Linked DNA regions of Homo sapiens. The protein of the gene in region 1 purifies or fractionates together with the protein of each later gene. This does not show direct contact. Each region holds a gene or a part of one and is shown on either strand. Other genes may lie near its edges.

What was found.
Region 2: the proteins of LUZP1 (region 1) and VSX1 purify together in Homo sapiens (co-immunoprecipitation; one large-scale study listed by IntAct). This does not show direct contact.

Annotation. Positions count from the first base shown.
Region 1 is NC_000001.11:23,088,625-23,092,433, reverse strand, and holds part of LUZP1 (leucine zipper protein 1), read left to right. Parts: coding exon 1-1,244; intron 1,245-3,380; coding exon 3,381-3,539; 3' UTR 3,540-3,809.
Region 2 is NC_000020.11:25,079,210-25,083,596, reverse strand, and holds the start of VSX1 (visual system homeobox 1), read left to right. Parts: upstream 1-1,455; 5' UTR 1,456-1,500; coding exon 1,501-1,924; intron 1,925-2,265; exon of another isoform or gene 2,266-2,329; intron 2,330-4,082; coding exon 4,083-4,161; intron 4,162-4,387. UniProt on the Homo sapiens protein: Binds to the 37-bp core of the locus control region (LCR) of the red/green visual pigment gene cluster. May regulate the activity of the LCR and the cone opsin genes at earlier stages of development. Dispensable in early retinal development.

The DNA.
Region 1 (3,809 bases):
GAAGCCAAGAGAACATCCTTCAGGGATTTTCAACCTCACATAAAGAAGGGGTTAATCAACCTGCAGCAGTTGTGATGGAAGACAGCAGTCCGCATGAAGCCTTGAGGTGTCGAGTCATCAAATCCAGTGGCAGAGAGAAGCCAGACTCAGATGATGACTTGGACATAGCATCTCTTGTTACTGCCAAGTTGGTAAATACAACCATCACTCCAGAGCCAGAGCCCAAACCACAGCCTAACTCTAGAGAAAAGGCTAAAACCCGAGGGGCACCTAGAACCTCCCTATTTGAGAATGATAAAGATGCTGGAATGGAGAATGAATCTGTGAAATCTGTCAGAGCCTCCACCAATACCATGGAGCTCCCAGATACCAATGGTGCTGGGGTAAAAAGCCAAAGGCCCTTTAGCCCCAGAGAGGCGTTGCGGTCTAGAGCCATCATCAAACCTGTTATTGTTGATAAGGATGTGAAAAAAATCATGGGAGGATCTGGAACAGAGACTACGTTGGAGAAACAGAAACCCGTCTCCAAACCAGGGCCAAACAAAGTGACAAGTAGCATTACTATATATCCATCTGACAGCAGCAGCCCCAGAGCTGCTCCGGGTGAGGCCCTGAGGGAGAGGCACACATCCACTAGCAATATCCAGGTGGGGCTGGCAGAGCTCACATCAGTTAGCAACCATGTCAGCTCCCCTTTTGAGCTCTCCATTCACAAACATGACATCACCCTGCAGCTTGCAGAAGCGGAGAGAATGGCAGATGGGCCCCTGAAGGACAGGCCAGAAACAGTGGTCTCTCGGAGCAGCATTATAATCAAGCCATCGGATCCTGTGGAGAGGAATAGCCATGCACCTCCAGCGGAGACAATCAGGTGGAAAAGCCATAGTGCCCCTTCAGAAGTGGGCTTCTCAGATGCCAGACATGTTACTGTGCGGAATGCCTGGAAGAGTAGGCGAGACTTGAAATCTTTAGAAGACCCCCCAACTCGAATAGGTAAAAACGTGGAATCTACCAATAGCAATGCCTACACCCAGAGGTCTTCCACAGACTTCTCAGAACTCGAACAGCCCAGGTCCTGCCTTTTTGAGCAGGGCACTCGAAGGGTAGGACCAAGTTCAGGGGATGCCCCTGAGCCCTCCTCCAGAAGGACCCAAAGTAGCCTCACTGTGTCAGAGGTGCTTACCCGTCGGAATCGGGTAGGAGACACCATCACTGTCGCAGCCTGGAACCACTCAGCAAGCATGGTGAGTTCCAGCCTCTCTCCCCTCTCTCTTTTCTCCCTCCCTTTTCCTTCTTTGCCTTTTCCTTTTTCCCCTCTGCTCTGGCCTGTGTGACCCAGGATCTTGAGAACTGAGTAGAACTGGGTTCCTTAGAGAACTGTTGAAAAATCAGGGGGGTTTGACCTTTCTCCTAAAGAAGGTTTTTGGCAGCATCACTTTCCAAAATCCCTTTTCCAATTTGTTGTCTTCATTTTGCTCTCGTATATGAAGGTGACATAAAAAGGAAATCTGTCTTCTCTTCCCTTGGTTTGCCAGAGCAGCTAAAGGAGCTCCCCGTAGGCCCTCAGAACAGCATGAAAAGCACAAGAAGCAGCTGCAGCTGATGGGGAGCTCTGGGCAACAGGAGGAGGCCCGGTGCCCTTTCTGTAGGGCACAGTGAGGGGGAGCCAGGTCAGCAAGTTCTCGGCCGCCTCAGTTAGCAGATCTTCACAGGCTGCTGGCCTCTCAGGGATGAGGAGAGCCGGGGCTTACACTGGGCCTATTTTAGATAAGCGTATACCCAATTCCAAGTGACACTTTCTTTTGCCCCCCAGACAGCTGTCTGTCTCATATTATCAGTCTGAGGGCAGGGCTGGTTCAGTATAGCTCATTACAGCTTTGATAAATCCAGAACCACCTGCCTTATGTGAGTGTGAGGCTCAGGGTGTCAGAACAGCATCTGGAGAAGCCCCTGGGAGTGTCTTTTTGATGAGAAACCTGTGATGATGAAAAACTTCTTGGACCTGGACACAGTGCTCCCTTCTTTAAAAAAGCAGATGACTCTGTTAACTTGAAAAGCCCTGTGACTCTTTACAGGGTACTTAACACTGGACAAAAGTACTTCACTACCCACTATCTTATTCAGTCCCTTGAATATCTGCCTGGGGGCAGATATTATCCCCATTTTTCAGATGTAGAAGCTAAGGGTCAGAAACACAAAATATCTTACCTAAGGTCACCCAGCAGAATTACTGGAAGAGCGAAGACTTGAATCCAAGATTCCTGTCTCTAAATCCAATGCTCTTTCTACTCTAACCTTTCTTACTCATGCCTATGTTATTCTTTGATCTGCATTTGCTTGGGAGAACCAAGGAGAATATTAAAAAGGTAGAATTCTGGCCAGGCGTGGTGGCTCACACCTGTAATCCCAGCACTTTGGGAGGCCAAGGCAGGCGGATCACAAGGTCAGGAGTTCAAGACCAGCCTGGACAATATAGTGAAACCCCGTCTCTACTAAAAATACAAAATTAGCTGGGTGTGGTGGCACATGCCTGTAATCGCAGCTACTCAGGAGGCTGAGGCAGGAGAATCACTTGAACCCAGGAGGCGGAGGTTGCAGTGAGCCGAGATCGCACCATTGTACTCCAGCCTGGGCAACAAGAGTGAAATGACGTCTCAAAAAAAGAAAAAAAAAAAAAGCCAGGTGTGGTGGTGCGTGCTTGTAATCCCAGCTACTTGGGAGGCTGAGGCAGGAGAATCGCTTGAACCCAGGAGACGGAGGTTGCAGTGAGCTGAGACTGCGCCACTGCACTCCAGCCCGGGAGACAGTGCGAGACTTCGTCTCAAAAAAAAAGGTAGAATTCTAGGCGTAGGGAGAAAGACAGCTATTTGGGCCCCTGAAGCTTTGGACATTTAAGAGGAGAGATAAAGGATGAGAGACGGGAATGTGAGCTTTTTGGTAGTTTGTATGTGGGAAGGAGGAAGAGAGCTGTCCGGACCTCTCTTCAGCTCCCCATCAAGGATGTGGACCTCATCCCCAGAATCATGCGGCCTGCATGCATGTGCAGAACTCGGAGACTGCTGGCCCCTCCTCAGGGGTGCTAGTCCCATGCCCCCATTCCAGGCTCTATCCTCTGTAAGGCTCCTGTTGAGTTGTGAGCCTCCTCCTAGCCTACCCTGATTGTTCCCAGCAGCTTGGAGTTCCCAGTCTGCCGATTTCCAAGGAATTTACATATTGGCCCATACTCAGGCAAAAGCATATCTTTGCAGTTAACTTATGGCCTGTCTGGGCTATATCTGCCTCTGCTGGGTTGGAAAGGACCCACTATGGTAGCAGGTGAGGGTGTCTCGGTCCTCACTTTACTGACCTCCACAGCTCACTTTTGTTATTTATTGGCACAGGAGGAAGAAGGGGAAGACTGTACACTCAGTGTCTACAGGCAACTGCACAACTCCCTGGATCCGTCTGAACTGCCTGGGAAGCAGGGGCTGCCAGAGTCTGGGCGAGTACGGGCCGAGGAACGATTACGGCCAACCAGGCCCTGTGCTGAGGAGAACTGAGCCCGCTGGGTGTCTGTTGTCTGCCCTCTGCTCCTGCTTCTCAGCTCTTCCACCGTCCTGCCCCACGAAGGATCCAAGGCCAGTTAACCAGGCAAGACACAAGCCTTGGCTGGAAAACTGTGGTAGAGCCGGGCTGTGGCTCAGGTAATTTTTGCCATTTGGCCAGAGGGAATCAGAGACTACAAGCTGGACAGTCACCCAGGCCCAACCTTCCCCAATGCACGAGTCCTCTCTCTCTCCTTGTCCCTGTCCACCAAGTAGTTGGACCAT
Region 2 (4,387 bases), on another chromosome or scaffold:
AAAGTGATTGTTTTGGTAATCCCGGGAACAGCTTGCAAGGGGGAGATTTGGGTCTTCCTTTAGTAACGGAAAGTCAATGCGCAGCCTCCTGTAATTATCCTTATCGGAAGCCCCTTGTTTAATCTGCATGTTTAGCGGAGGCCCCACTCGAACGCGCAGCGAGTGGGAGACCCACTTTGCAGGGCCCAGGCTCGGGCTCCGGTCCCTGCGTGCGCGCAGGCAGCCGCGCCGGGTTCCCGCGGAGCTCAGGCGTTTGCTCCTCCCTCGCTGCGGGACCTCGGACTGTAGGACCCTCAGGGAGTGGGACTGAGGAGATCTGCTTCCGGGGTTCTGGGATTGGGAAGCGGGGGACGCAGGGCTCCGAGCGATGAGGGCTGGTTGGGTTCAAAGCGCGAACCAGTAGTTACTTACCCACGTGCTTGGGGCCAACTTTAGCGAATATCAGAGTTTCACTGATTATTCAAAGAATCAGGCTTTCTTTGAATAATCGTGAAATTGGACAATAAATTGTAAGCCCCGATGAAAAGGTGTGCTTTCCAGTAGACAGACTCTATTTTATTTCAATTTACCTCCCTCCACTCCTCCCCAATTTAGGGTTGCTGGATAAAATACTGATACATACTCCTACAAAAAAAAAAAGCCCTCCTTTTTTATCTGAAATCACATTTCACTGAGCCGACAGTGTTTTGTTGGTTAAACCTGGTACCCTGCCCGTCTCAGCCCCGGGCAGTCCACTCCTCTCTCTGCTTCTCTCCCTTTCCCCAGCTCTTGTGAGTCTGCCACCCCCTACAGTTCAGCCCGTGGAGTGTTGGGGATGGACCTGGGGGTGGATTTGGATGGAGGTAGAATGACCATGGATTAAAGGGATGGAGGTAGGATGACCATGGATTAAATACACGGTTTTCATTCCTTTCCCCTTGGGGATTTTCAGAGAAGGCCTTCTTACAGGAAGGCCTTCGTGGCACCGGCGGCGGAGGTGGAGGGCTGGCTGGGGACATATATGGGGTAGCCATCGGGGTGTGGTTGGGAATGGGGTCCTAGGTCTTAATAGGCAGTTGGGTCGCATCAAAGAAGCTTCAGGGCAGCTGGGAGTGGGGCCTCCACCCAGAGAGTCTGGAAGGAAGGAGAAGGCCACGCCAGGATGTAGAACTTGCGACTTTTCGAGGGACAGGCAGACAGCGGAGTCACTGTCCCTTACCTTCTTTCCTCCCCTCCCTCCTAGAATGGGGGTGGGGTGGGGTGGGGTGGGCTGGACAGAAGAGAGGAGGAGAAGGAGGTGACTGAGGGGACTGCAGCTGGGTGGGCGGTAACCGAGGGGAGGGGAACTGGTGGCGTCCCCATCTCGCGGGGTCCGGAACGGCGACGCGCCCGCGCCCAGCTGATTGGAGCCCTTCAGGCCTCCCGCGCCCGACCGGCAGCCCAATCCTATAAAGCTTCCTCTAAGCTGGGCCCTCCGCAAACGGGATCCAGAGAGGCTCGCGCCTTGCTTGCTAAGGAACCATGACCGGCCGGGACTCGCTTTCCGACGGGCGCACTAGCAGCAGGGCGCTGGTGCCTGGCGGTTCCCCTAGGGGCTCGCGCCCCCGGGGCTTCGCCATCACGGACCTGCTGGGCTTGGAGGCCGAGCTGCCGGCGCCCGCTGGCCCAGGACAGGGATCTGGCTGCGAGGGTCCGGCAGTCGCGCCGTGCCCGGGCCCGGGGCTTGACGGCTCCAGCCTGGCGCGTGGGGCCCTACCGCTGGGACTCGGCCTCCTCTGTGGCTTCGGCACGCAGCCGCCGGCGGCCGCTCGAGCACCCTGCCTGCTCCTAGCGGACGTGCCGTTCCTGCCGCCCAGGGGCCCCGAGCCCGCTGCCCCGCTGGCTCCCAGCCGTCCGCCGCCTGCGCTCGGCCGCCAGAAGCGCAGCGACAGCGTCTCCACGTCCGGTAATCAGGCCCGCGCTTTCCGCTCCTGCCCCTGTCCCCTAGGCTCTGAGCCGCGCAGGGGTCACAGACCATCGCCCCACCGCACCCCTGGCCCCAGCGGCCCAGATCTAGGCGGGGAGCCCAGAGCGAGGCCCCGTCGCGGGAGGGGCATTCGCGGAGCTGCGCCGCCTGCCCCTTGCTGCATCCTAAATCCCTGCCTCTCATCCGGGGTCCTGTTCCCTCAGCGATGTGAGACCGCCACCACCTGGTTCCGGGTGGAACCTTTTGATGAGACCCTGGGGTCTTCAACAACCATCTCCAGAGGGCCATTTTTCCCCCCAGCGCCAGGCGCCAGTCTCCGCCTCTGGCAGCTGCGTGGGTCGGGAAGGCCCGGGCCTGTGGTGGTCACCAGCAGCACCGAACAAGGTACCAGGTGGAAACGCGGGCGGAAATGATCGAATGATTGACGGGTCCTGGAAGAGTACGGGGCCTCGAGCCCTGGAACTGTCCGCCCCTTGGGGTGCTGAAAAGGGAGTCCCGGGTACCGCGCTCCTCTGCCGGCGCAGCGTCCTCCCAGTCCCCTGTGCAGGAGAAAGAAGCAACCTTGGGGATTCATTGTAGTTACGCCTAGAGATGTGTTCCTGGCCTACCCATTTCCCCAAAGAAATCCAGACGGGTCGCGGGGAAAGAGAAGGAAGCAATGAAATTCTATAAAGGACAAGGGCTAAGGAAACGAGTGGTTTTGGGTGTGGGAGAGAAAAGAAAGAATTACACAAGAAAGGATGGTATGTGGTAGAATCTAGAGCTGAGCATCCAGGCAGCCAAGGCAAAAAGAGTAGACTGGGTCTTCTGATACTAAAAGGAAGCATGTCAGATCAATAGGCAGGCAGGTTTTTGCTCCACTCTAAAAGGACTTTATTTCATGAGCTCTACGTAAGATAAAATGAAACTCCCTATTAGTGTCACTAAAAATGCAAAACTGTTTTCATGGGATGGGTTCTTTCTTACAAAACCAAAGGCAGCTAAATCCAACTCTGCCAGCATTTCTGAAAGTCTGGAGCAGAGCTGTCCAAGAAAAATGAAATGTGATTTCATGTTTGACGGAAATTTCTCACAGTCACATTAAAAGTGAAATGAATCTAAATACTATATTTTAACCCAACAATGATAGCAAATATTATCATTTTACACATAATCAATACAAAAATATTTTACTTTTTAGGAGCACTAAGTCTTCTAACTCCATTAAGTGATTTATGTTTACAGCATGTCTTGATCTTACTGGCCACATTTCATGTGCTTAATAACCTTATGTGTCTCATGTCTCATCAGGTTGGACAGCCCAATACAGAATGTTTTAATCCAAGCCAGGTTTCTGGTGAACTAATTGATGGATGAGTAAAACTAGTATTATTTAGTTATTTTTGCCTTTATTCATTTTAAAGATATTTTGAGGCAATTATGCCTTCTAGCAATGAATCTCACAATAGTTTGGCCTTCTAACCTTCTTTTCCATCTAGACTTTTTGATGTATTGGATATAAAAAGGTAAAGCACAGTGGAGTGGTTCTCAAATTTTCAAGGGCAACTACACATCATCTGAGCACACTTGTCAAGAATGAGCCTCCTAGATCCCACCTCCAGAGATTCTGATTTGGTGCATCAGGGAAGGGTTGCAGTTCTGACGAGGGTTCTGATGTCACAAGCCCCAGACTTCCTTTGGGAAATGTTGGTGTAGAGGTTAAGATGATGAGGCTGGGGGCATAGGGGTGGATGTGTTTGGAAGCAGTGTGGGGATAGAAAGTGCAATCAGTGGCTGAGTAGTTTTGGCTTCAGATAATCTGGGATTTGAATTCTCAACTTCACCATTTACTACCTGTGTGATTTTGGGCAAATTACTTAACCATTCGGTGCCTCAGTTTCCTCATCTGTAAAAATAGGATGATAATAATAGCAGCAGCCATTTTGGTGTTTTATTATTATATTAAGAATACTTGAGATAATGTATGGACAGTGTTAAGCACAGAGCCTGGGATCTAGTAGGCACTAAAAATGCTGGCTCATACTGTAAACTACTTAAGTACCCAAGAGGTTCATAACTTCAATCCTCACATTAAAATCCAGGAAATAGAGGGGATATGATCACCCTTAAAGTCCTCTTCTTCTTTCTGTGCCATCAGATGAGGACAGCCAGTCTGAAGACAGGAATGACCTAAAGGCATCCCCCACCTTGGGCAAGAGGAAGAAGCGGCGGCACAGGTATAGGGCCAGGCAGTCCCCTCTGCCTGCCTTTCCTCGGGACACAGCCCAAGGTTTATGGCACCTGCATCTGAGAATTTATGGCCCGGCATGATAGCAGGCCCAGTGGTTTCCTGGTTGGCAATGGGAAGGGCACAGAAGCCATTTGGGAAGATAATTCTGCAGTTCCTAGGAGGCTGGGAAAATGCTACAATCTTGCTAGCATTTTTTTGGGAGCATTTTAAAG